Homo sapiens: one gene and its partners. The protein of the gene in region 4 interacts with the protein of the main gene of each other region in a pairwise test. Each region holds a gene or a part of one and is shown on either strand. Other genes may lie near its edges. The genes, in order: BAHD1, TTC33, KLF15 and COL26A1.

What was found.
Region 1: the proteins of COL26A1 (region 4) and BAHD1 interact in binary tests that used the Homo sapiens proteins (3 or more experiments, as listed by UniProt).
Region 2: the proteins of COL26A1 (region 4) and TTC33 interact in binary tests that used the Homo sapiens proteins (3 or more experiments, as listed by UniProt).
Region 3: the proteins of COL26A1 (region 4) and KLF15 interact in binary tests that used the Homo sapiens proteins (3 or more experiments, as listed by UniProt).

The regions. Positions count from the first base shown.
Region 1 is NC_000015.10:40,443,927-40,450,956, reverse strand, and holds part of BAHD1 (bromo adjacent homology domain-containing 1 protein), read right to left. Parts: exon of another isoform or gene 5,556-7,030; coding exon of another isoform or gene 5,414-5,555; intron 1-5,413.
Region 2 is NC_000005.10:40,745,942-40,752,971, forward strand, and holds part of TTC33 (tetratricopeptide repeat protein 33), read right to left. Parts: intron 1,079-7,030; 5' UTR 1,078-1,078; coding exon 857-1,077; exon of another isoform or gene 1-856.
Region 3 is NC_000003.12:126,354,409-126,362,263, reverse strand, and holds the start of KLF15 (Krueppel-like factor 15), read left to right. Parts: upstream 1-4,855; 5' UTR 4,856-5,027; exon of another isoform or gene 5,028-5,157; coding exon of another isoform or gene 5,158-5,189; intron 5,190-7,855. UniProt on the Homo sapiens protein: Transcriptional regulator that binds to the GA element of the CLCNKA promoter. Binds to the KCNIP2 promoter and regulates KCNIP2 circadian expression in the heart. Is a repressor of CCN2 expression, involved in the control of cardiac fibrosis.
Region 4 is NC_000007.14:101,554,875-101,559,554, reverse strand, and holds the end of COL26A1 (collagen alpha-1(XXVI) chain isoform 1 precursor), read right to left. Parts: intron 3,769-4,680; coding exon 3,684-3,768; intron 2,186-3,683; coding exon 2,025-2,185; 3' UTR 531-2,024; downstream 1-530.

The DNA of each region.
Region 1 (7,030 bases), on a different chromosome or scaffold from region 4:
CATGTTGGCCAGGCTGGTCTCAAACTCCTGACCTCAAGGGATCTGCCTGCCTCGGATTCCCAAAGTGTTAGGATTACAAATGTGAGCCACTGAGCCCGGCCCAAAAGCTAAAGTCTTAAAGCAGGAAACAAATGCAACTTTTCCCAGACTCGCCCCTATTAGCTCCATGTAGGATGACTCCAGGCAGGGGTTGGGGGGCACCCCTTAACTCTGGGCTAAGGCTCCCTCAGACCCTCCCATCCAGATGCCATACTGCCCAGGATCAGCCAGAGGCAAACCTACACCTGCAGCAAAACCCATTTGCTCTGAGCAGCTAACAATGTGGGAGAAATAAAACAGGAATAAAACAGGGGACAGGGCACCCCAAAGCTCAGCAACAGGCCTCAGCAGAACCAGGGAAAACCTTGTGCTACTGATGCACCATTCTTCAAAAAACATGAACAGCTCACCAGCCTTCTCCAAGCACCTGCCCAGGAATGGCAAAGAACGAGTGTTGGTTCAACCACCAGGACATTACATGGACCAACAACTTAGATTTCTAAAATGGCTTGCCAAGACTACAGGTGCTAGCTCTAGTCCTGAACAGAAACTAGCCAGCCAGGCCAAGATGGAGCTCTGCCTCCAGCCTCCTCAGCAGAGCACTAACCTCCTGAATGAACCAGCTGTGAGGAACAAGATCCAAGACCAGGCCTCCCCCACACTCCACTAGCAGGAGCAGAATCGCAAGGCAGATCGTATCAGAGTTATGGGCACCCTACCCAAATATCACTCACTTAACTAGTTAAGTGGCTAGTGCCACCTCCAATAGGATGCCAGCCCTATGGGGACAGGTAGGCTCTGCCTTCCTTAACAGTAAATCCCACCCACATGACTTAATAAGAGCTTGGTAAGAATAAATGAAGATCTGGCTGTCCACCTGCCCCACCCTGTGTAAAATCTTTATCCTAGACTTAGAGCACCACTTGGAGCTCAAGACAAGAGCCCTCTGACCTCCAAACTCTCCTCCATCCCCAGGAGTCCACTGTGCATCTTCAATTTAATCCACAGTGCAACAAGGTTACAATAGGAAATCTCTTGTATTTTCATGGCACAACCCTCCTTCATTACCATCAATTTTCATTTTCTTTTTTTTTTTTTTTTTTGAGACAGGGTCTTGCTCTGTCACCCAGGCTGCAGTAGTAGGGCAGTGGCACAATTATAGCTCACTGTAGCCTCGAATTCCTGGGCTCAAACAATCCTCCTACCTCAGCCTCCCGAGTAGTTGGGACTACAGGCCTACACCACCATGCCTGGCTAATTTTTAAATTTATTTTTATTTTTGTAGAGACAAGGTCTCACTATGTTGCCCAGGCTGGTCTCAAAGTCCTAGCCTCAAGTGATCCTCCCATTTCAGCATCCCAAAGTGCTGGGATTACAGGCATGAGTCACCATGCCTGGCCTCATCCTCCTCCTTCTCTCTCCCAAGTTGCCCAGCTACCTCTGGAAAGCATTCCACTGGCTGTGGCTGCCCCTAAACCATTAAGCAAGTGAATGTAGTACTACAGACACTTGTATCAAGACAAAGAATGTCACAGATAGGTGAAATCAGGAGCAAAGAACTAAAGTTAGCATTATCAGTCCCCAGACACCCTAAGTGTGCAGGGTTGGAAATTTCTGATTCACTGCAGAGGTGACTACTGTAAAAGGATGGTCAATGTTTGTCAAGCACTCACTATGCACCTGGCAAGGTCCTAAGCACACTACATTCACTATCTCATTTATCTTCCCAACAGCCTTATGAGCTAGTTGTTACCATTTCATCCTAACAAGGAAAAAAAACAGGTACAAAGAGTTAAAAGGAAGGCTGGGCGCGGTGGCTCACGCCTGTAATCCCAGCACTTTGGGAGGCCGAGGTGGGTGGATCACCTGAGGTTGGGAGTTCAAGGCCAGCCTGACCAACATGGAGAAAATACAAAAATTAGCCGTCTCTACTAAAAATACAAAAATTAGCTGGGCGTGGTGGCACATACCTGTAATCCCAGCTACCTGGAAGGCAGAGGTTGCGATGAGCCGAGATCACACCACTGCACTCCAGCCTGGGCAACAAGAGTGAACCTCCGTCTCAAAAAAAAAAAAAAAAAGAGTTAAAAGGAGATGCTGGGTGGGCGTGGTGGCTCACACCTGTAACCTAGAATTCCTGTGCTGTGGGAGGCCAGGAGTTAAAAGACCAGCCTGGGCAATACAGTGAGACCCTGTCTCTACAAAAATAAAAAATTAGTCGGGCATGGTGGTGTGTGCCTGTAGTCCCAGCTACTTAGGAGGCTGAGGTGGGAGGATCACTTGAGCCCGGTAGGTGGAAGCTGTAATGAACCATGATCATGCCATTGTACTCTGGACTCGGTGACAGAGCTGGCTCTTAAAAAATAAAAAGTTGCTAGGATTGAGGACAGAGGTGAGCCATCCTGGCATCTACACCAAGGCCCACACTTCCTGCACTGCAACACACTGCCTCTACTTAGGGCATCACAGGATGGCTGCTGGATCACAGACCAAGATGCAAGATAACTTGCACGTTCAGTTTTATTTTTCTGTGCTTTAATTATTGGCATTACCACACATTATTAGTTTTCCCACCACAGAGGAACTGAAGATGTACTCCAATTAAATGGCATCTATGGGCTAGAACGTAAATACAATTAAAAAAATTTTTTTTGAAAGAAACTTTTTTTTTTTTTTGAGATGGAGTCTTGCTCTGTCATCCAGGCTAGAGTGCAGTGGCGCAATCTCGGCTCACTGCAACCTCCACCTCCCAGGTTCAAGCGATTCTCCTGCCTCAGCCTCCTGAGTTGCTGGGACTACAGGCGCATACCACCATGCCCGGCTAATTTTTGTATTTTTAGTAGAGACAGGGTTTCACCATGTTGGCCAGGATGGTCTCGATCTCCTGACCTCGTGATCCGCCTGCCTCCCAAAGTGCTGGGATTATAGGCGTGAGCCACCGCACCTGGCCGAAACAAACATTTTATATCCTAGAAAAGGGTGACATGCTAAGAAGTCTGGGCTAAATAAATAAATGAATAAATGAGAGAGCTTCAAAGATACGTTGTCCTGATTTTATAGTAAATCCAGAAAAAGGTAACCCCCAACCATGCATCTACCCAATACCTCTTGTCTCAGGTGAAATTCCCTGCCTCCAGCCCAGACTGCAATGAAGACTAAAAACTGGTCATCATGCTCTAAACTGTCATCTTAACATGCAAAGACATATTAACTGCCCCTTGTCTACCTCCCTCTGGGCCAAATAAATTCAAGTCCTTTCAATTTCTCTGGAAATCATCTCTCAGTTATTCAATCATTTTTATTTTTATTTATTTATTTATTTATTTATTTATTTATTTATTTATTTATTTATTTATTCTGGAGACAGAGTCTTGCTCTGTCGCCCAGACTGGAGTGCACTGGCGCGATCTGCAACCTCTGTCTCCTGGGTTCAAACAATTCTCCTGTCTCAGCCTCCTGAGTAGCTGGAATTACAGGTGTATGCTACCAGACCCGGCTCATTTTTGTATTTTTAGTAGAGACGGGGTTTCAGCATGTTGGCCAGGGTGGTCTTGAACTCCTGACCTCAAGTGATCCACCCGCCTCAGCCTCCCAAAGTGCTGGGATTAAAGGTGTGAGCCACGGCACCTGGCCTCAATCATTTTTATAATTCTTTTTTACATTCTAGCCAATGTGGAAACCCCTCCAGGCACAAAGCAGGAGACACCCCTCACTACTGAGGAAGGCCCTGCTGGCCCTGACTATGGTGGAAACGTGACTTCACCCCTCCTTCTGGCATACTTGTTAGGATCTCCTGGCATCAAGCGGCACCCTAATAATACCTTTCCCACGATTTCTACATAGGTCCTCTAAAAAACAGTAATTCACCTTTAAACCACCTGGCCACATGAGAATGTGATTAACAATTATTCCTAAACATTGTGGACAGGTAACCAGAGTTGGAAAAGGGTCTGTGTGGGCTGCCCCTCTCCACTGCACGCAGGAAGCTGAAAAAGCTGCACTGATGGAGGCTAGGAGTCCCCAAAAGGCATTGGAGATGGAATAAAAGTAGGAGCCATCAACAGCACTCCAGGTGAGATCCCTGGGGTCAAGAGAACGGCAGAAAGACAGGTCCCATCCTCCTTACCCAAAGACAGGAGGTCAAAGCACCTCTTTTCCCCAAACCCACTGGAAAAGGAACACATGCAAGAAAAAATATTGAGACCCAAGTTCCTGCCTGACATTGGTAACAAGACTAAGAAATCACCTGTTTTTTTTCATTCAGCTAACTTGGTCATAGTGCTTAGAAATAAGTTCCCAATTCAAATCAGCGAGGCTGAGAGACAAACCCCTTTTTTTCTCCTGGTGGATTGGGCCTGCAGAGGATCTTAAAAGACAATGTTATTTTTTTGTGTTGGGGGGACACTGAGTCAAGTGAATAACCATCCTTGCAGGTGTTTCCCACTGGGAAAAATGAAATCTGATGACCCCACTCCCACCCACAGGGACACAACACAAAGTCCTGGATGTGACTGTACTCCAGGGCCTGCTTACCAAGTCACCTGGGGCAGGACACCAACACCCCTGTTGGAACCCCAGGGCTGGGCCGGTGTTCAGTGAGGGTGCTTGTCAGGCCGTCTGGCCCTGAGCAGACCACGTGCAGCCTCACTGCTGCTGGTGCTCTTTCTCCTCCTCCTTTTTAGCCATTTTACTGATCATTAGTGGCAGTACCAGGAGGTGGGCAGGGGAACATAAAGGAGCTGAAATTCAAACCAGCCCATTTTACACCACTTAGGTGCCTCCCATAAAACCGGGCAAGATTTCATCATCCAAGAACTCCCTGTCCTCTGTCCTGTGGAGGTCTAAGCAGCCTGAGGGGTCAGGAGCTACACCATCTCCAGACCCCAGGATCAGGAGCCTCTATCTCTAATTATCATGAGCTCTTGACTGCGCATGGTATTTTCTGTCACTTCAGGGTTAACAGGCATTTCCAGCCATGAGCTGGCCCATCAAGTCAACGCCAGGAAACCTGCAGAGTGGGAGTGCTGGGGCTGCCCTCAGAACCGAAGCACACTCTCCTTGTCCCTCCAAAGTCCCCAGCACAATGGCAAGTTCACAAAGGAAGTGAGCCTTGCCAGACTGTGCTAGCAAATTCCCATAAATACTTGGGTCGGGGTAGTACTGCTTATGTAAAATGCTTCCCCATTGAGAGATGCTGCTTTATTTACATTCTTCACAACCCATTCATAAAAAGGAGGCCCTTTAATGTCGGGGCTGTTCGTATAATGCTCCATAAACTCGGCAGCTTCGCCTGGCAGCCTTAGTTCAACACAGGCTACTTCTCAACTCCAGAGACTTTTTTTCCTTAAGGTTTTTATTCTCCTTAATGACTCACCTTGCGACAGGGTGCTGAGGCCAGATGTTGCCGGAGCAAGGCCAAGAGGAATAAGAACAGATAAAATGAAAACACACAAGTCCTCCTGGATGCTGGAACAGAGAGGTGAGGAGGAATGAAAATAATTTTGAGAATTCCCCATAGAACTCCAATTTGAAGTATGTATGCTAGGAGGCTGAATTCCTTCCAGGTTTACTAAAACTTCCTTTCTGGATGTCAAATGTGCCCCAACTTATACCTCTAACCAGAGAAGGTGTGAAAGGGTTGTTTTTTTTTTTTTTTTTTTTACCCAAAAGGAGCTCTCTCTAGTTTTTAATTTGCACCGGGGATGAATAAATAAACAGAAATTTTCTCTGTTTCTTGATATAAGTGTTCCAGGGGCTGCTGGCTCCAGAAGGGGCACAATTTGCTCAGAGTGAAGAAACTCAGGCAATCCCCAGAAAGAGAGGAAGGACTGTGTTCTAGGACACACAGCAAACACAGCTAAAGGAGCTGAGAAGAGAGCCCAGGAGATGCATTCTGAGGTAGCTTTTCTCCTGCTACAGTAGAAGGAGGAGAGAAGTAGTAGGGATTTTTTTTTTAATTGACGGGGGAGCGGTCTGCATTGCCATGGCAACTGTGAGGGGTGGCCTTCCCGCGTAGAAGGGAAATGCTGGTCCATTAATCATCAAACTGGGGCACAAAAGGGAGGTTTGGGGGAAAGGGGATGGATGCAGAATATATTTTTTCACTATCTGGCCTCTAACCAGTCACCAGTCCTCTTTCCCGTTTCCCCCATGGTCCAGGGTTGATGGTGAACCAAAACAGAAGCCTGAGAGAGCAGGGATTGTAGCTTTCCTTTATGAGGGGTCCAATGTGGGGCTGATTGTGCCTCTTATGTTGGTGATGCCCCCATAAACACCTCTTCCAAACCAGCCCCAAAAGTCCCATCTATGGGCCAGACCCAGGAGTATTTTTCTTTTCTGTGCTCAGAATTGTGTTTTCTCCCTCATTTGCACCCGGTTTGAGAAGAGATAAAACATGGATTCATTTAGCATGAACAACAAGGAAAACTGCATAAGAGCAGCAAAGCTGGGTAGAAAGAATGGTGGTCCGGTGAGGTAGGAGGAAAACAGGATTACAGCCCTTTTCCAATGTCTATATGGTATCACATAAGCAATCCATAGGACTCTTCACCAGCAGAAATATTAGAAACAGCAGTTAAATTTCCCATTTACAGCACCCCAAACATGCCCTATCCATATGCCTTTGACAGAAAGGGCTGGAAATCTCCAAGGACTCCAATATGAGCATTTCTGGAGAAGCTGAAAGGAAGGTCTCCCCCTTGTTCCTGCCTAACTCAGCAACCAACCACATTTATTCACTCAACAAAAATGATGTGCACAGCACTGTACAAGAAATACCAGAATATTCACACACACACACACACACACAGAGGTTTAACACTCATATTGTTCCTGTCCTTAAGAAATTTCCAACCTACAAAACCACTCAAGAGGATACCACGTTAGAAAATCCAGAGTCATGAGCTCAGGCGGGGATGACTATGTTGGCCTGGAGTGGTCTGAGCAACAACCAGACTAAGGACAAGTGGGATTCAAGTGGGAGTAAAGGAAG
Region 2 (7,030 bases), on a different chromosome or scaffold from region 4:
TAAAAAAGGCCTTTTCCACCATAGATTAGAGATACCATTCTATATTTTCTTCTATTAATTGCATAGTTTTACCTTTCACAAATTTTTAATCCCTCCAGGGTCCATCTTTGTGCATGGTATTAGATACAGACACAGTTTTATTTTCCTCTAGGTAGTAATCCAGTTTTCTCAACAGAATCTACTAAAAAATTTGTCTTTTCCCCACTGACTAATGAAAAATGATTTTTGGTCCTTCTTAAAAATCTAAGCAGAAAAAGGAGAAAAGGAATAAAAAAGTAAGAAAAAGAGGAAAGGAAAAAAGAAAAAAGAAATGGGTGCATATAGGAACAACTTAGCTAAAGAAGGGCTAAAAATAAATGAAGCTATTATCAACTTCCTGTACAGCAAGTCATATTTACTTAAGTATATAAGAAGTAAATGGCAAAGAATAACTAAATACCTATTTTTTTTTATGTATGTGCCCTCAAAGCTATTCAGGAAATGCCTAATTTACCTGATACATAATGTTATAAGCAGAAAGTTTCCAGTGATAAGACCACCTTTTACTGACCAATCACTTGAATTACATTTTACTTAGCATTTACTCTTCTTTAGGCACAACAAAAATGATGGCAAAGCAGGGACATAATTAGCATCCTGAAAACTATTTTACAAACTTTCATTGCATCCTGAAAACTATTTTACAAACTTTCATTTTTCAGGTGACTTTGAAACACCTTATTTCTTTGATTAATTTAGCACCTAGAATAGATTTTTAAACATGAATTTATCAAATTCATAACTCTTCATCCCATTACGGACAGTGAGCTAGAAAATGTAAGCTCTTCTCCATAAAAAAAAAACTTTAAATACATACCTTTTATTTTCAGCCAAACTGGCTCCTTCATCCTTCAGCTGTTTACTTTTCTCAGCACAGCCTTCAAGAAGAATTTCTTTCCTACGTTTAATGGCATGAAGCCAGTTCCCTTCATCGTTGTCAACTACATCCTTCTCATCAGCAGCTTCAGCTTCAAACTGCTGGGAAGTGACCTTTGAGACCTTCTCACCAATTTTCCTCTTCCACCCAAAGGAAGCCATTCTGGAAAATTACAAAGAAACAGCTTTAAAATTCTAACTTGATCTTTTTTTTTTTTTGAGATGGAGTCTCACTCTCGTTGCCCAGGCTGGAGTACGATGGCACGACCTCGGCTCACCGTAACCTCCGCCTCCCGGGTTAAGTGATTCTCCTGCCTCAGCCTCCCGAATAGCTGGGATTACACTCATGCACCACCCACACCGGCTAATTTTTGTATTTTTACTAGAGACGGGGTTTCTCCATGTTGGTCAGGCTGGTCTCAAACTCCCGACCTCAGGTGATCTGCCCATCTCGGTCTCCCAAAGTGCTGGGATTACAAGCATGAGCCACCACGCCCGGCCCAAAACTTGGTCTTTTATGGAAGTATTCCAACCCATAGGTAAAGAGGAAATAACAGGATTAGACTATCACCATTTTTCAACCCTAATTAGTGGCTGTAGGCAATAATCATCAATGGCCACTAACATCACTAAGAAAGACAACTGGACATCACACACCTCCTGATGGAAGTAGCATGTCACTCATGAAGTAAGTACTCCTACAAAAATTAACCCTGAGTCAGATCAGGCCTCTACCTATAAGAAATACAGGATAAAGTGAAGCATGCTCAATAACACATCAGAGATGCAGATAGCAAAAAACAGAAACTAAAGGAAAATAAAGCTGGTTTCTTCAAGAAATAAACTGCCAGGAAAGAAAGAAGAGAAAGAACAAGGTAACCCCTAAATTAAGAGAGACTTAAGAGACATACTAACCAACATAACATGTGGATCTTGTTTCACTCCTGATTCAAAAAAGCCAATGAGAAGAAAACTTTTTTTTTTCTGAGACAAAGTTTTGCTCTTGTTGCCCAAGCTGTAGTGCAACGGCCCGATCTCGGATCACTGCAACCTCTGCCTCCCAGGTTCAAGCAATTCTCCTGCCTCAGCCTCCCGAGTAGCTGGGATTATAGGCAGGCACCACCACGCCTGGGTAATTTTTTGTATTTTTAGTAGAAACGGGATTTCACCATGTTAGCCAGGCTGGTCTCAAACTCCTGACCTTAGGAGATCCGCCCACCTCGGCCTCCCAAAGTTCTGAGATAACAGGCGTGAGCCATTGCACCCAGCCAGAAGGAAACATTTATGAAATAGGAGGAATGGGAACACCGATTTGATATTTGATGATATTAAGAAATCACTGTTTTGTTTTGTTTTTTTGAGATGGAGTTTTGCTCGTTTCCCCAGCTGGAGTGCAATGGCACGACCTCGGCTCATTGCAACCTCTGCCTCCCAGGTTCAAACAATTCTCCTGCCTCAGCCTCCCGAGCAGCTGGGATTACAGGCATGCGTCACAATGCCCTTCTAATTTTATATTTTTAGTAGAGATGGAGTTTCACTATGTTGGTGAGGGTGGTCTTGAACTCCTGACCTCAGGTGATCCACCCACCTCACCCTCCCAAATTGCTGGGATTACAGGCGTGAGCCACCGCACCTGGCAAATTATGGCTATTTTTTCTTTGGTGTGATAATGGTATTGTAATTATGCTTACAAAAGGAACCCCTAGGTTTTAGAAATATAAACTGAAATATTTCATATAAAATTATAAGACATCTAGGAATTGTTTTAAAGCAATCAGTGGAGGTTGGGAGTGCAATGCAAGAGAAAATATACATGAAATTAGATTGCTTTTAATTGATAACTAATGAAGTTGAATGATGAGTACATAGTGTTCATTGTACTTTTTCCTTTCATATGTGTTAAAATTTTCCATAATAAAAAGGTTTTAAAAGATTCAAACTTGGTAAACGACTTAACTCACAAAATTATTGGGTAAATTTTAAAATAACAGATGCTGGCCGGGCACGGTGGCTCACGTCTGTAATCCTAGCACTTTGGGAGGCCAAGGCCAGTGGATCATTTGAGGTCAGGAGTTTAAGACCAGCCTGGCCAAACCCCATCTCTACTAAAAATACAAAAATTAGCCAGGCGTGGTGGTACATGCCTGTAATCCCAGCTACTCAGGAGACTGAGGCAAGAGAATTGCTTGAACCCGGGAGGCGGAGGTTGCAGTGAGCCTGGGCAACAGAGCAAAACTCCATCTCAAAAAATAAATAAATAACAAATGCTGAACTTTTCAGTAAATCTGCAATGATATACAAATGTAAGAAATAAAGAGAGGATAAATGATAAAACAAAGTTAACAGAAATCCTGAAATAATTCAACAAATATTTATTTAGAGAAGAGATTAACTGAGGGATCCAAAAATTTACTAGTTGTATAGATGGTCTTCAAGATACTAAGAAACACTGGGAACTGTATATAAATTGTACAAAATTCTTTATATCTGTGTACATTTTGGAGAATAGTGTTTAAGCTTTCATTCCATTCTTAAAGGAGTCTATAACCACAAGGAGATTTTGATCAAATGATCAACTAGAGAAACAGAGAAAAAAAGCAATGAACCAAAAAACATAAAGAAAAGAAAAGCAACGAATCAGAGGGCTTTATGAAACTACCAAAGAATGGGCACTGTGGGAGTATGGGAGGGAGAGAAATGAAATACTGCATAAGTTCGAGCAGGTTTCAAGGTCTTCATTACTGATGCACATGGCTGAAGTGATGTATAAGTACAGGCCTATCTCAGAGTTGTTGCACGGTCAGTTCCAGACCACTGCAATAAAGTGAATAATACTAAAAAGTGGGTCACACAAATGCTTTGGTCTCCCTATGCATATAAAAGTTATGTTTACACTATACTATAGTCTAATTAAGTGTTATAGCATCATATCTTTAAAAATGTACATGCCTTGCTAGGTGCAGTGGCTCACGCCTGTAATCCCAGCACTCTGGGAGGCTGAGGTGGGCAGATCACGAGGTCAGGAGTTTGAGACCAGCCTGACCAACATGGTGAAACCCCGTCTCTACTAAAAATACAAAAATTATCCGGGCGTGGTGGCATGTGCCTGTAATCCCAGCTATTCAGGAGGCTAAGGCAGGAGAATCGCTTGAACTCGGGAGGCAGAGGTTGCAGTGAGCTGAGATTGCACCACTGCATTCCAGCCTGAGCAACAGAGCGAAACTCCATCTCAAAAAAAAAAAAAAAAGTACATGCCTTAATTTAAAAATATTTTATTGCTAAGAAACGCCAATGATCATCTGAACCTTCAGCAAGTCCTAATCTTTTTACTGATGGAGAGTTTTTCCTCAATGTTGATGGCTGTTGACTGATCAGGGTGGTGGTTACTGAAGGCTGGTGGCTGTGACAATTTTTTAAAATAAGACAACAGCGGTCAGGCATGTTGGCTCACGCCTGTAATCCTAGCACTTTGTGAGGCTAAGGCAGGTAGAGGGCTTGAGCCCAGGAGTTTGAGACCAGCGAAATCTCATCTCTACAAAAAATTTTTAAAAACTATCCAGGCGTGGTGGTACACATCTGTAGTCCCACCTACTCAGGAGACAGAGGCAGGAGGATCACCTGAGCCCAGGAGGTTAAGGCTGCAGTGAGCCATGACCATGCCACCGAACTCCACCCTGGCACCCTGGGTGACAGGATAAGACTTTGTCTCCAAAAAAAAAACAACAACAATGAAGTTTGCTGCATCGACTGATTCTCCCTTTCACAAAAAATTTTTCTGTAGCATGCAGTCCTATTTGGTAGCATTTTACCCACAGCAGAACTTCTTTCAAAATTAGAGTCGATACTGTCAAACTCTGCCACTGCTTTATCAACTAAGTTTATATAATGTACTCTAAGTCCTTTGTTGTCATTTCAACCATGTTAACAGCATCTTCACCAGGCGTAGATTCCATCTCAAGAAACCACTTTCTTTGTTCATCCCTAAGAAGCAACTCCTCATCCTTTCAAATTTTATCATGAGATTGCAGGAATTCAGTCACATCTTCAGGCTCCACTTCTAATTTGAGTTATCTTACTATTTCCACCACATCTGCAGTTATTTCCTCCACTGAAGTCTTGAACCCCTCAAAGTTATCCATGAAGGTTGTAATCAACTTCTTCCAAATTCCTGTTAATGTTGATATTTTGACCACCTCCCATGAATCACAAATATTCCTAATGGTTATCTAGAATTAGAATCCTTTCCAGAAAGTTTTCAATTGACTTTGTCCAAATGAATCAGAAGAATCACTATCTATGGCAGCTATAGCCTTACAAAATGTATTTCTTCAATAGTAAGACTTGAAAGTGAAAATTGCTCCTTGATCCATGGGCTGAGGAAAAGATGCTGTTGTTAATAGGCATGAAAACAACATTAATCTTGTACATCTCCATCAGAACTCTTGGATGACAGGGTGCACTGTCAATGAGCAGTAAAATTTTGAAAGGAATCTTTTCTTCATGAGCAGGTCTCAATAGTGGGCTTAAAATATTCAGTAAACCATGCTGTAAACAGATGTGCCATCATCCAGGCTTTGTTGTTCCATTTATAGAACACAGGCAAAGTACATTTAGCATAATTCTCAAGGGCAACAGGATTTTGAGAACGGTAAATAGACATTGGCTTCAATTTAAAGTTCCCAGCTACATTAGCCCTCACAAAGGAGTGAGCCTGTCTTCTGATGCTTTAAAGCCAAGCATTGACTTCTCTGCAGCTATGAAAGTCCTGGAGAGTATCTTCTTCCAATAGAAACCTGTGTCATCCACATTGAAAATCTTATGGCCATGCGCAGTGGCTCACACCTGTAATCTCAGCACTTTGGGGGGCCAAGGCGGAAGGATCACAAGGTCAAGAGATAGAGACCATCCTGGCCAACATGGTGAAGCCCTGTCTCTACTAAAAATACAAAAATTAGCTGGGCGTGGTGGCGCACGCCTGTAGTCCCAGCTGCTCGGGAGGCTGAGGCAGGAGAATCGCTTGAACCCAGGAGGCGGAGGTTGCAGTGAGCCAAGATCATGCCATTGCACTCCAGCCTGGGCAACAGAGTGAAACTCCGTCTCAAAAGAAAAAAAAAAAAAAAAAGAAAATCTCATTTAGTGTAGCCAACTTCATCAATTATCTTAGCTAGATCTTTTCTGGATAACATCAGCATTTGCTGCTTTACTTTGCACTTTCATGTTATGAAAATGGCTTCTTAAACCTCACAAACGAACCTCTAGCAGTTTCAAACTTTACTTTGGCAGCTTCTTCACCTCTCTCAGCATTCACAGAATTGAAGAGAGTTAGAAACTTGCTCTAAATGAGGCTCCTGCTTAAGGGAATATTGTGGCTGGTTTGATCTATCTAGACCATTCAAAGCTTCTCCATATTAGCAATAAAGCGGTTTTTGCTTTCTTATCATTTGTGTGTTTACTGAAGTAGCACTTTCAATTTCATTGAAGAACTTTTCCTTTGCATTCACCACTTGGCTGTTTGGTGCAAGAGGCCTAGCTTTCAGCCTGTATTGGCTTTCAACAGGTCTTCCTAAAATCATTTCTAGCTTTTGATTTAAAATGAGAGATGTGTAACTCTTCCTTTCACTTGGACACTTAGAGGGCATTGTAGGATTAACTGGCCTAATTTCAATATTGCTGTGTCTCAGGAAATAGGGAGACCCAAGGAGAAGAAGAGAGATGGGAATAGCCAGTTGGTGGTACAGCATTCAAAACACACATTTATTGATTAAGTTCACCATCTCATATGGGCATGGTTCATGGCAACCCAAAATGATTACAATTGTTAACACCAAAGATCATCGATTACAGATCACCATAACAGATATAGTAATAATTAAAACATCTGAAATATTTCAAGAATTACCAAAATGTAGCACAGAGACACTAAGTGCACACATGCTATTGGACAAATAGCACGAAAAGACTTGCTGGACACAGGGTTACTGAGCACTTGCAATGTGCAAAAACGCAGTATCTATGAAGTGTGATAAAGTGAAGCACAATAAAATGATCCCTGTAATCACTAGAAGGAAGGTGAGAAAAAAAGTGAGGGTGGCTATGAGGTCATTCACATGGAAAG
Region 3 (7,855 bases), on a different chromosome or scaffold from region 4:
AGTCTATGCAGCCATGCCTCTGGGGGCACAGACACTATTTGGCAGGCAGGGTGGGGCCATACACTTGTTGTACAGACACAAAAGACACAGGCATATTTTTATTTATTTATTTATTTATTTATTTATTTATTTATTTATTTATTGAGACAGGGTCTTGTTCTGTTGCCCAGGCTAGAGCGCAGTGTGCAATCTTGGCTCACTGCAGCCTCCACCTCCTAGGCTCAAGCAATTTTCCCACCTCAGCCTCCCAAGTAGCTGGGACTAACTACAGGCACACACCACCATGCCTGGCTAATTTTTGTATATTTGTAGAGACAGGCGAAACTGCCCTGTTGTCTAGACTGGTCTGGAACTCCTGGACTCAAGCAATCCGCCCGCCTCGACCTCCCAAAGTCCTAGGATTATAGGCGTGAGTCACGGTCCCCAGCCCAGAACATTATTTAGAACAACAACAACAACAAACAGAACTGGTAGGTGGCACTGGCGCTGAGTAGAATTTTTACTTTTTGTTTCATGCCTTTCTGTAGTGCTTGAACTTTAAAAATGTGTGCAGGTGTTATTTTTAAAAGAATTACTTAAATGAATGGCCTGAACACCAGTCTGGGAGGCTTGAAATTGAACCAACAGGGGACAGAGAATCCCATGGCTTTCATCCTATTGACAAGGTGGCCACTGTTTCCCTGGCTTCTAGCTTTTGCCGGGCTTGGTACACCCTTCCATGAGAGAGCCTGGAGTGGCGGCCACTCCCATTCCCTAGAGCTAACCTGCCCTGCTCTGTGGTCTCTTCCTGCTCCTTGGTGCTGCTCCTTGCTGCTCCCAGTGCGTCTCCCCAGGGTGGCGTCCATAGCCCCCTTCACACTCGTCCTTATCACCTGCACCACCGTCATCCTGCTGGGCCCCCTACACTGCACTGGGATCTCAGGAGGCCCTGGCAGTGTGAGTGGCATCTCATCTCCGCAGCAATGCTCGGCACTGGCAGGACGGCTGTCCAGGAGCAGTGAATACATATCAGAAGGAATGGTAACAGCCTGTAATGAATCTCTGTACTTTCCAATGCCTTTTCCCATCTCTTACTTTGGTTATCTTCAAACAACCTTTTGAGGTAAGTAGGATAGGGGTCTGAGCACCCATTTTATAGATGAGGAAACTGAGGCTCTGAGAGACAAACTGATTTGCCCAAGGCCACTCAGCAGTGAGGGACTGTGTGAAAGAACCAGAGTCCAGGCTGCCACGCATGTACAGCCCCACTAGGCTGGGGTTCAGGCTGCCTGCCTGCCTGGAAATCTGTCAGGTGTCAGAGAGACCACAACTCATGGCAGAGACGGGGATGAGGGGAAGCTGAGGAGCCCTCTGACCCCAGCACCACACTGATGTGTCCATGGACCAGGGGAAGCTGGAGCTCTCATCCCACCTCAGCCCCTGCTGCTTCTGGATCCTCCGGGCAGGGGTATACCTGGGGCTTTGCCAATGCTCAGAGCCAGGGGCAGAGGCTCTCAGGGCAGAGGCTCTCAGGACTCAGCCCTTCTCTGTGTCTTCTTGGACCACCAGGTCCCCAGGTCCCTGGGCTGATGTTCCTCAAAGCTAGGTGTGCTCAGGGCTGGGGGGCTGGGGGTGGGGACAACACTGGTCATGAGAGAGGAGTGGGCCCTCATCTGAGTCGCCTGGTGTCAGAACAGACCTGACCTCTTGTCTACACAGCACCAGGGGTCTGCTTGGTGGGGAAACGGTCCAGCCCAGCCTGAGGAACCTCCTGCAGCATGTTTTTCCTGGCCCCTGGGCACCAGCAGCCCTTCTGCCTGCCTATTCCCTAGCCTCCAGCTCAAAACCACTTCCTGAGCCCAGAATGGGTAGGATCTCTTCAGCACCCCAGCCCTTAGAGGAAGAGGTGGTGAGAAGGTAAGGGACTCTGGCCAGAGACCCTTGAAGCATGGCTGGGGACAGGGGAGCTGAGAGTAGGGGGAATTGTTGCTTCCCACCTGGGAAGGGTGAGGAGAAGTCAGTCACTGTGGGAGGTCACAGGGCTTGATGGCCACAGTGGGCCCTTTGTGCACAGACCATTGAGCCACTGAATGGGGCCCTCAAAATGCTTCCTGGAAGAGGGCAGGCTGGGCTCAGACCCCCGGGCAGGCATGAGCTAGTGGGGAGGCTGGAAGTCTCAGGTATGTGTGTGGAACAGGGGATGAGGACAAGATTGGTGGCTACAGTACTGTGGAAGAGAGCACCAGACCTTGAAGAGCTTCTCCAAAGATCCCATATCCATTGGCAGCTTTACTGGGGCAAGAAGAAAATCTCATTTCCTCAACATGTTTCAGAAGTGTTCTAGGTTCTGGGGATACAGCAGTGAATAAAAAAATACAAGTCCATGCTCTTAAGGAGCTTGTCTCCTGATAGGAGAGACAGGCAAGAAACAAATCAATAAATAATATAAAGATCAGGATCATGAAGCAAAATAAACAGAGGCCAGGAAACTGAGGGCAGCAGATGTGCTGTTTTAGACGGGATGGGTGAGGAAGGTGTCTGGGATAAGGTGGCATCTGAGCAGAGACCTGAGTATGCGATGGAGCAATCCATGCAGCTGTTTAGGGGGAAACAAGAGACAATAGAAGAACGTTTCCCTGAACGAAGAAAGACTTGAGTTTCCAGATTAAAAGGATACACCAAGCATAGAGTAGTAACAATGAAAACAGAAGGAGGCTAGAGTCAGACATATCCTGGTAAAATGTGTGAAATTCAAGCATGGAGAAAGATCACTCCAAAAAGGCACCAGGCCCAAATGGTTTTATAGGCAAGGTCATACAATATTTAACCAATATAATTTATATCCTTCCAAGGCCCTTTTCTATACTTGATTATGTAGAAGTAGGGAAGGAATTGCTTTGGAAGAAAAGAAACTTAGAGATTTTCACTGCTATGAAGATAAATCTTTACTGTTTTTGGTCATCTGTTTTGAAGAGCACCACCTGACTTTGTTCTCTCCTTTCTGCCAAGGAATCTCAATGATAGATTCTCCCCACTATATTGAGGGAGCTTTTCTCCTTAGATATGGTTTGGGGTAAATGCTGTACCTAGCTGTAGGGCATTAAAGATTGTGGTGAAAACTTGGGCTTTACTTACTCTGAGTGAGTTGGGAGCTGCTGGAAGCTTCTGAACCCAGAAGGGACCTGATCTGACTCAGGTTTTAACAGGACCATCTTGGCTGTTCTCCAGTTTCTAGCCAGTGGGGCCTCCTCCCTGTGTGCTGAAGGTGCTAACGATGTGTCTTTGCTTCCAAGCTTTTTCTGACCTTTTGCTGCAGCTTTCACCAAGGAGATGGGAGGCACTAGACTGAGAGTATGTGAGGAGTGAAGACCGAGGGCGGGCAGGGCAGATGGAGAAGTGCTGTGGCTATGCCCAATCCAGACCTGCACTGAGACAAAATGAGGAATACAGGCCTCTATCTCTTCTCTTATGAAAATGGACAAATTCCACTGTTCTGCCCAGGCTAGCCAGGGCTGCTGTAATGCCAGAGTGGTCATTCCAACTTCTGTGAACTAGAAAGCCTCTCACCATCCTCAACACAAATGTCCTTAAAGCCCTCTGGCAACGCATTGGTTTGGCTCCTAGTGGCAGCAGCAGCTGAATCCCTGGCACTGACCTGGTGCACAGTGTCCCCAGATCCCTGGTCAAGCAAGCCTAGACCTATAGCATTCCAGAGAGCCTGGAAAGGGTATGGTTAAAAATTCCTGTTCTAGCAATGTCTTCAAGAAGAAGCAGGAGAAAATGCTCCCCACCTCCCAGTGCCAGGAGGGGAGAGGAAGGAAGCTCAGTAGGACAGCTCTGCACAGGTGGCCTGGGGGTGTCTGCAAGATGACCTGGCTCTACCTCTCTACCTGCTCCTTCCCAGCTGTGGGGCTGGGGAGGGCTGGTGCCCTCTCTGAGTCGGTTTCTTCATCTGTAAAGTGCTTGGCTGAGGATCCAGCTGGAGTGTGGATTAAAGGGCACAGCAGGGTGCCTAGCACCGTCAGCCCACGTGTTTTTCTTGGGCAAGCCACTCTGAGCCTTACTCTTCCTGTCTCTAAGCGGGAACCCAAATGCGAGCCAGGATTGCTGCGGACTAAAGCAGTCTACGAACGCTTTTGTAGACTGCGAAGCATTGTTTGGTCTTCAGAAAGGTGCCCCAGAGACAAGGTGTCATTGGTTTCAGGTGGGGGGGGGGGGGGCCGGTCAGCAAACCTCCTTAGTCCTGGAGGGCAGGGTGGCAGCGCAGAGCGCGCGCAATTTCCGGAGGGTAACTGATTGTCCTGCTGAAAGCCCAATACCGTATTTATCCAAAAATACGTCCTTCTAGGCAAGTGATTTATCTGACACTCAGCGGGGGACAGAGCTGCTTGTACCGCGCTGGGGATGAAGGTGGGGACGTGGGCCAGACCGGGCCAGACAGGCTCCCCAGCGCTTCCCGCTCAATCACGCAGACTGCACTTTGGGGCGATCTCAGAGCTTTTCTTAAGTCTTCAGGCCAGTCTCACGTTCTCACCTTGGGAACCGAGCTTTAGAAGCCGGCCCTCGTGGACGCCGCGAGACAGCGGCGAGAGGTGGGAAGCAAGGAGGTGGCTGCGGGCCAGGGACCAGGCAGCGTGTTGGGGGGCGTGCGCGTCTGGCAGCTCCGGGATCCCCGAGCATCCGCCGCTCAAGTCCGGGAGCCGCGCGGGCGGGCCGGGGCGGGGCCAGGGCGGGGCCAGGGCGGGGCGGGACGTGTGACGCGCAGCGCGGGCCAATGGGGCGCGCGCCCGGGGCCGAGCCTCCTGCGAGCCTTCGCGGCGCCCGCTGCGTCACGTGAGCGGCGGGGAGTGAGTGCCCAGCGAGCTGCGGGCGGGCTAGTGCTCCGCCGCAGCGACCCGCGGGCCGGCGGGCGATCGAGCCAGCGCAGGACCCGCGGCTCGGCCCCCGGCCGCCGCCGGACCGAGAGTCTAGCCGCCGCCCCCAGCCCAGCCCGCCCGGCCGCAGGACCGCCGGGGCCTGGCCGCCGGTCCGGCGTGCGCCAAGTTCAGGTGGGAGAGGCGCGGCGGGGCCGGCCGGCCGCGTGGACGCGGCCCCGGGTGATCAGAGGGCTGGCCGGCCTCGGGGCGCGTGGCCGTGCTCCCGCGCAGCTCTCGGAGGCACCGCGCGAGTGCTGGAGGAATGTCGGAGGAGCGGGATGGGCCCCCGCGGAGGTGGGCAGGGGTCGGACTGGCCCGGGGGAGGTGACCCCCCCCGCCCCGGTCGCCCACCAGCACTTTGCTGAGGCCCGCGCCGCCGCCTCGGTGCCTGGCCGGGCGATTCCGTGGCGCGCCTTGCGGGCCGGCCCTCCCATATGGTGGGCACCGGCGCGGCCTGGTGAGAGGAGGGGGAGAGCGGACGCGCTGGCCAGCCCGGGGTTGGGGGGCGGAGGGGCTGGAGACGGAGGGGTTACTGTCGGTCACCGCAGCAGTGTCGGGGGCAAGGGGGGGGCGTGGGACGAGGGCATGGTGCCCAGCGGGCAGCGGTCCAGGACTCTAGAAGGGGTCTGAGCCGGCTCTCTTCATTTCCCACGCACGTTTCCCCTCACCCGCCGGCACCCACGGCGGCTCCACGCGCGAGTCCTTCGCGGACAGCCTCCCGCACAGCCACAGCGGCTGCCGCGCACCACGCCCCGCACACGCAGTCACACGACAGGAACTCACACCCCTTCACGCACACCCGCACCGTTCACGCGTCTCACTCCACGCTGAGTCCCCGTCCGCTCAGACCGAACATTACCAAAGCCATGGCCTGACCGAGGGATGGCGGCGGCGGGGCAGAGAGGCCGTCCCCATCCCATATGGTGGTCCGGTTCACTCTTCCCTCCCCGCCTTGGTGTTACTCATGGAACCCCCCTCTCACGGAGGGCACAGAGGGGCTGTTTTCTCCCACGGCCCTCGGAGGTGACAAAATCAACAATTGTTTGAGAGCCTCAAATCTCCTTCCCCCTGTCCCCCCGGACCAGGTGGCCCCTGGGGAGACCCTGCCGCCCTACAGGTGTGAGGACGCCCGGACTCTGCGACTTTGGGGCCTGCGGGCGGCTCAGGGACCGGAGACTCTTATTTTGAAGGACAGCCCCCGCCGCCACCCCCGTGATTTGCACGCTGACCCAATGGCAAGCCCTTGGCCGGCGCTGGGCTTGTTATCAATTACATGTTGTTCCTGCAGCCGCTGTGTCCCCGGGAGGATAAACAGCAGGCCTGGCCGGGCCAGGGGAGGGGGCGGAGTCCGGCGGCCAGCCGGGGACTGTGCCCGGAACAGCGTGTCCCCTCCCCCTGCACGCAGCCTGCGCCTCTGGCCGCCCCACGTGCTGCTGTGTTTCAGGGGCCGAGCCAGCTCCAGCCCTAGAGTGTCCTCTCTTTAATGCCGGTGCCCTGGGACATCCCAGAGCCCTTTCTGGGTTGTCAGTGCCTGGGTGCTTCCCCCTTGGGACGTTCAGCCCAGCATTAAGACCCTGTTGGCTGACCTGGGCCACCCATTCCTACTCTCCGACCTCCCCCGCTCTCCCCCGCACCTTCCATTCACTCATTCAGCAAATTTTGCCCGGTCCTGTTTTAGACTCTGGGATATGGCCTTGGAGTGAACAGTCAGGACAGCTGATATTCTGATGGGAAGGTAGACAGGGAGGAAAGTTCACAAACACATCACCAAGATAGTTTCCCACAGTAGAAACTGCAGGGAAGAGTATAATATAGGATGATGTAACAGAGTGGGCCTGGAGGCCCCCACAGGGGTGACTTCTGAGCCGAGATCTAACTAAGCAGCTCCCACCTGCAGTGCTGGGGGAAGAGCCAGGGCAGTGGCCCCGGGCTGAGGCTGAAGTGAAGTGAGCACACCTGGACTAGAAGAGAGGCAGTTGGTGGTGAGGTCTGCAGAGAGTCCCAAGGGCCCAGGTGCTGGGCTGCTGCGAGGAGATAGGGCCACCTGTCCTTGGGAAGCCATTGGAGGGTGTTTCCTTCCAGCCCCCCTACTGTACTTTTTAGATCACTTTATCTGTCAATATCTGTTTATATGTTTAAAAGGTAAGGCCTCCTTTAACCACAATATGATCATCACAATTAAAAATATTAACAGTAATTACTTAATATCATGGGATGGCCAGTTAGTGATCACGTTTCAGGGGAGGGCTCTAAGGCCTGCTCTGGGTCCCAGGAGGGCTGGAGGCCCCTGATTCCTTAACATCACAGTAGAGGGGCAGAGGCCGAACGTTTGCCGTGCCTGCAGGCTGACACCAATGGCTGGCACTGGCTGAGTGCTGCCGGTGTGCCAGATCCTGAGGGGGGTGCTTAGTGAGCGTCAGCTCACGGAATTCTCACAACACCTGAGGAACCAGGCACTGTTGGAAGCACCCCCATCTCACAGACTGAGACAGACACAGAAAGGCTGTGCACCTGCCTGAGGTCACCTGGCAGACAACTTGCAGACTCAGAAATGGAGCCCCTGCTTGGAGGGTGGGAAAGGGTTGGGGGAGGCCCAGGGTGGAGTGTGGGCTCTGCCCAGCCTTGTGCCCTTCACAGTGTCTAGCACTTTCATTCCTTCCCAGCACCTGATTTGGTGAATAGGTGCATTTTAAAACATATTCCAGGTTTAAATCCTTAGCTGAGTATTTAAACCAAAAAGCCAAATGTCCTCCTAGTAAAACTGGCCTGGGGCACAGACCTTGCCTTAGTTTCCTGGAGCTCCGTGAAGCTTCCTGGGTAAGTTGGGAACTGGGGCTAAAGGTCCTGGGGTCCCTGAGCAGGAAGAGACTTAGAGATCTTTGAAGCATGGAACAGATGAGGAAACTAAGGTTTGGGAAGGGGAGCAAGGACTTGCTCAAGGTTGTAGCTGATGATGGTAT
Region 4 (4,680 bases):
CACCAGTGTGCCATGTCAGTTTGCCATCACCATGGCAACACTCAGGAGCCACTGCCCTTTTCCATGGCAAAGACCTGATGACCCGGAAATAACCACCCTTTCCCTAGAAATTTCTGCATAAACCAGCCCTTAATCTGCATGCAATTAAAAGTAGGTATAAATATGGTGCAGAACTGCCCTGAGCTGCTATTCTCTGCCTGGGGAGAAGCCCTGCTCTGCACGAGCAGTCATGGAGCTGTAGTCCTGCCCCTCCAATAAAGCTGTTTCTCTTGCCTCCAGCTTGCCCTTGAATTCTTTGCTGGGTGAAGCCAAGAGCCCTTGCAGGTTAAGCCCCAATCCGGGGCTTGCCTATCGTGTGTCACTCCCAGCCCCCTCCCTGGAGGTCCTGAGGGCAGAGCTGGACCTCCCTGCCACAGAGGCCCTGTGGTCACCCCGGGCCTGGCTGGAGCTGCTCACAGCTTCCCTGGCACCTGGCCGGTAAGATGCAGACCAGCCTCCTGCAGAGCTGTCACCACACAAACAGACCCACAGTGGGGAGAGCACCTTTATTGTCACATATAATAATAACGCTACAGGCTGGTGGTCCCGCCCGCCTCTGACCACCCCTCCATGAAGACAGAGACTGCCTCTCCAGACCTGCCTCAAGGGCCAGAAGAAGATCCCAGGGCCCAGAGGGACCAGGCCACAGCCAAACAGGAGTACCAAGAGCACTGGAGACAGTCACTCCTGCTGTGAAGACAGAGTGCCCCAGGGTGGCGCCAGCACCTTCAATTCTCTGAGTTTGCTGCCGTGGCTGTGTCCCAGGTCCCAGCCCAGCAAGAGAGGAACACCAGGGCTGAGCTGATCACGGAGACCCTGGCCCCAGAGGCCTTGAGGGCTCCAGTCAGAGCTGTTCTGGGCTGCTAGGGACCTGGTGCCTGCCATGGAGCCTGCCAGGCCCCCAACTCTGGAAGGTGGGAGGCAGGAGCATCTCTTCCCAGCAGGCCTGGGACTCTGTTTCCCTCTCTGCAGCTTGCAAAGGGGACACTGGGCTTGCTGTGTCATGCAAAAGTAGCAAACCTATAGAGTCCACTGAGAGACAAACTCGTGGGGCAGAGGCTGCAAGTCCCACCTCTGATAGACATGCCCATGAAATGCTGCCTCCCCTGGCTCAGGGATGGGATGGACCCAGAGAGAGCGGGTGGGCTCAGCAAGACTGGGAGGCAGTGGCCAGGGATGCCTATCTGGTTTGGTGGACACTTGCACCCCCAATGCTTCTCTCTCAAGGTCCTCAAGTCCGTATGGCTGGCAGTGATTTATTCAGGGTCTCCCTGGCCTCTGAGAGCTGCAGTCCAGGCTGCTCCCCCAGCCAGTGGGGAAGGGGGATGAGGAAGGGAAGCCCCAGGCCCTGCAGGACCCTGCCTACCCCCTCAGGCTGGCTGGCCCAGCCTCCCCGCAGCCCTGCCTGCCTTAAGGAGCCGTTCTGGCCCTGCGCCCTCCCTGTCTGAGTTTTCTCTCGAAGAGGGGAAGCTGGCAGGGTCGAGAGAACATGGCTTCAGGAACTGAGGGTCCTGGGTTCAAATCCTGCCCCTGCCACCCGTGATCTGGTGGCCAAGAGAGGGTTATTTCTACCGTCTGAGCCTCGGTCCCCTTGTGAAGTGGGGATAATAAGCTTACCTCCTAAGGGTTAAATAATGAGACAACGTAACGAAAGTTCCCTGGACAGGGCCAGTTACAGCAGGGACTCAATAAATGATGGGTATTAGGATTATTCTCATTCCCAGCACCCAGCCCACCCAGACCCCGTCTCCAGCCGGGAGTGGGGGTAGGGGAGGGGACAGGCCAGAGGAGGGCTCTGATGAGGGTGTTGGCCCCTCCAGACCCTGCCCCTGGAGACATTATCTGTCCCCAAAGCCCCCCATGTCCTCACAATCATCCATGCCTGGAGCCCAGTTCCCCTGGGGGCATCTTTAGGAAACAGCGGCGGCTCAGGCCTCTGGGGCTGGGTCTCTAGCCAGGACAGGGTGTCCTGGAGCAGTGGGCTCTCACTTCCTGCTGCTGGCCTGGTCCACGCTCTTCTGTCCAGGGTCGGGCCCAAGCAGGGCAGCAAGGACCCCATCGGGTTGGGCGCCACCCCTCTTCATCTTGAGGTTGGCTCTCAGGGCAGCATCCTGGCCAGAACCTCCCTCTGGGGAGGCCAGGGGATCTGGAAGGAGAGCAGGAGGGTGGACTCGAGGTAGAGCCTTAGGAACACTTGGGGGTACATTTGATCATGATATGTGGCCACGGAGAGATGCTCTTGCCCAGCGTGGAGAAGCAAGGCAGCAGCAGGCTTTCAGCCCCTTATGCATTCATTCATTCATGGATCCATGCATCCATCCATTCATTCACTCATTCACCCATCCACCTGTCCATTGACCCATTCATCCATCTGTGTATCCACCCATTCATCCATTCACCCATTCATCCACCCACTCAGTCACTCATTTATCTATGCATCTATCCATTCATTCACTCATTTACCTGCCCGTCCATCCATCCATCCATCCATCCATCCATCCATCCATCCATCCATCCATCCACCCATCCATCCACTCACTTATCCACCCACCCACCTATCCACTCATTGATTCATCTATGCATCTATCCATCCATCCATCCATCCATCCATCCATCCATCCACTCAGTCATTCATTTATCTATGCATCTATCCATTCATTCACTCATTTACCCATCCATCTATCATCCATCCATCCATCCATTCACTCACTTATTCACCCACCTACCTGTCCACTCACCCGCCCATCCACCCATTCATTCATTCATCCATGCATCTATTCACTCATTTACCCACCCACCTGCCCACTTATCCATCCACTCATTTATCCACCCACCTGTTCACTCATCCATCATCCATCCATCCATCCATTCACTCATTCACCCACCCACCTGTCCACTCATCCATCCATCCATCCATTTATCCATCTATCCATCCACCCATTCATTTATTCATCCATGCATCTACCCATCCACTCACTCATCCACCTATCCACCTGTCCATTCAACAATTCATTCATTCATTCATTCATCTATCTATGCATCCACCCATGCATACATTCATCCAGGCAACCAGCCATTCGTTCACTCACTCACTCACCCACCCACCTGTCCATTCACCTATTCATTCATCCATTCATTTTCCAGCAAATGCTGATGGGCCTCTACTCCAGGCCCTGCAGAGGTATCATTCACTGTTCTGCACAAGGGACTCCCAGAGGGTCACAGAAACCCCAGCATGGAATGGAAGCCTCCCCTATGTCACCATAGGGACAAAGAGGAGGGTTCAGAGAAGGCTTCACAGAGGCCGAGATCTTTGAGCAGGTCCCGAAGTGGCAGTCAGTGTTCACCAGGCAGAGGCATGGCCCGAGCAAAGGCATGGAGGTGGGAGGGGCCTCAACATGGCTGGGCAGGGCTCTGCCCACCATGGCTATACTAGGGAGGGGCTGGGAAACTGGGCTGATGCACTTGGAAGTCTGTCAAGGGCAGCAGGGAGCCACTGAGGGTCCTTGAGCAGGGGAGGGGGAGGGTCAGACTAGGGGCAAGGGAGGGAGACCAGAGACCCTAGGCAGCAGCCATGAGGGCAGCATTGGGAGAGGAAGGAGGGGAGAGAGATTCCCAGCCCGCTGATCCTGGTCACTGCTCACCGTGGATCCCAATCATGTGCTCCAGGATGAGGACTCGCTCTGCCAGGATCTTCAGGGCCTCTCTCAGCTGCTGCACCCCCTCGCCCTGGCGGGGAGGAAACAGGCAGGGTCAGGGCCGGCCATGAGGAAGGGGTCAGGGCCATCCTGATACAGTGACAGTGTATGTGTCCTCAAAGCCCCCCACCCCTGCCTCTTCCCACCCGACACCCTCACCACTGCAAATAAGCATAGACTGAACATCATCAACTATGTGCCAGACAGGGCTTCAAACCCTGTTCACAGACAAAGAGCTTGAAACACAGAGAGGGCAGGCAACCTCCCCACGGCCACACAGCCTGGCAAAGCGGCCGATCCAGACTGCAGATCCACACCTGTCAGCCTCCAGCCTGAGCTTTTCCTTCCACCATAGCTGCCTGTCAGCTTCCCCCACATGTCCTGAAAATACCCTAACCAGGACAGAGCACCTATCCCAGGGCCCGAAGGTAGGAAGTTCTTTGCTTGTTTCCTTCCTTGAATGCCCAAGAGCTCGCCACCAAACAGCAGGCAAGGGGCAGGGTAGGTGTGGCCATGCCAGGCAAGAAAGACAGCAGAGAAAGCCACCATTTCAAAGTGCAGGCAGGCAGGCTGGCGTGATGGCAGAGTCTGTATTTCAAGGGCCCGGTCTGCACACAAGCAGAGGACCTTGTGCACAGAGACACCTGAGTCAGCCAAGACAGGGTGCTGACTTATTGAGAAGGCAGGTGTCGAGGCCACTCTGAAAAGTGATGATGAGGAGACAAAGCCACTGTCCCCATCCTGCCCAGCCCTGGGAGTTGGCAGCAGAATGGGTGCCTTTTGCTGGTGTAACATGACAGATCTGTCTTATGTTCAGATTAATTTAGCTTAAAATGAAACAAAAGGAAACCAAAAAGCATCCTACTGGGTTATAGGAGAAAGGTCTGCCCACCAGGGGACCAAAGACAATGGGAAGTTGAGCCAATTACAGGGTCTGGGACAG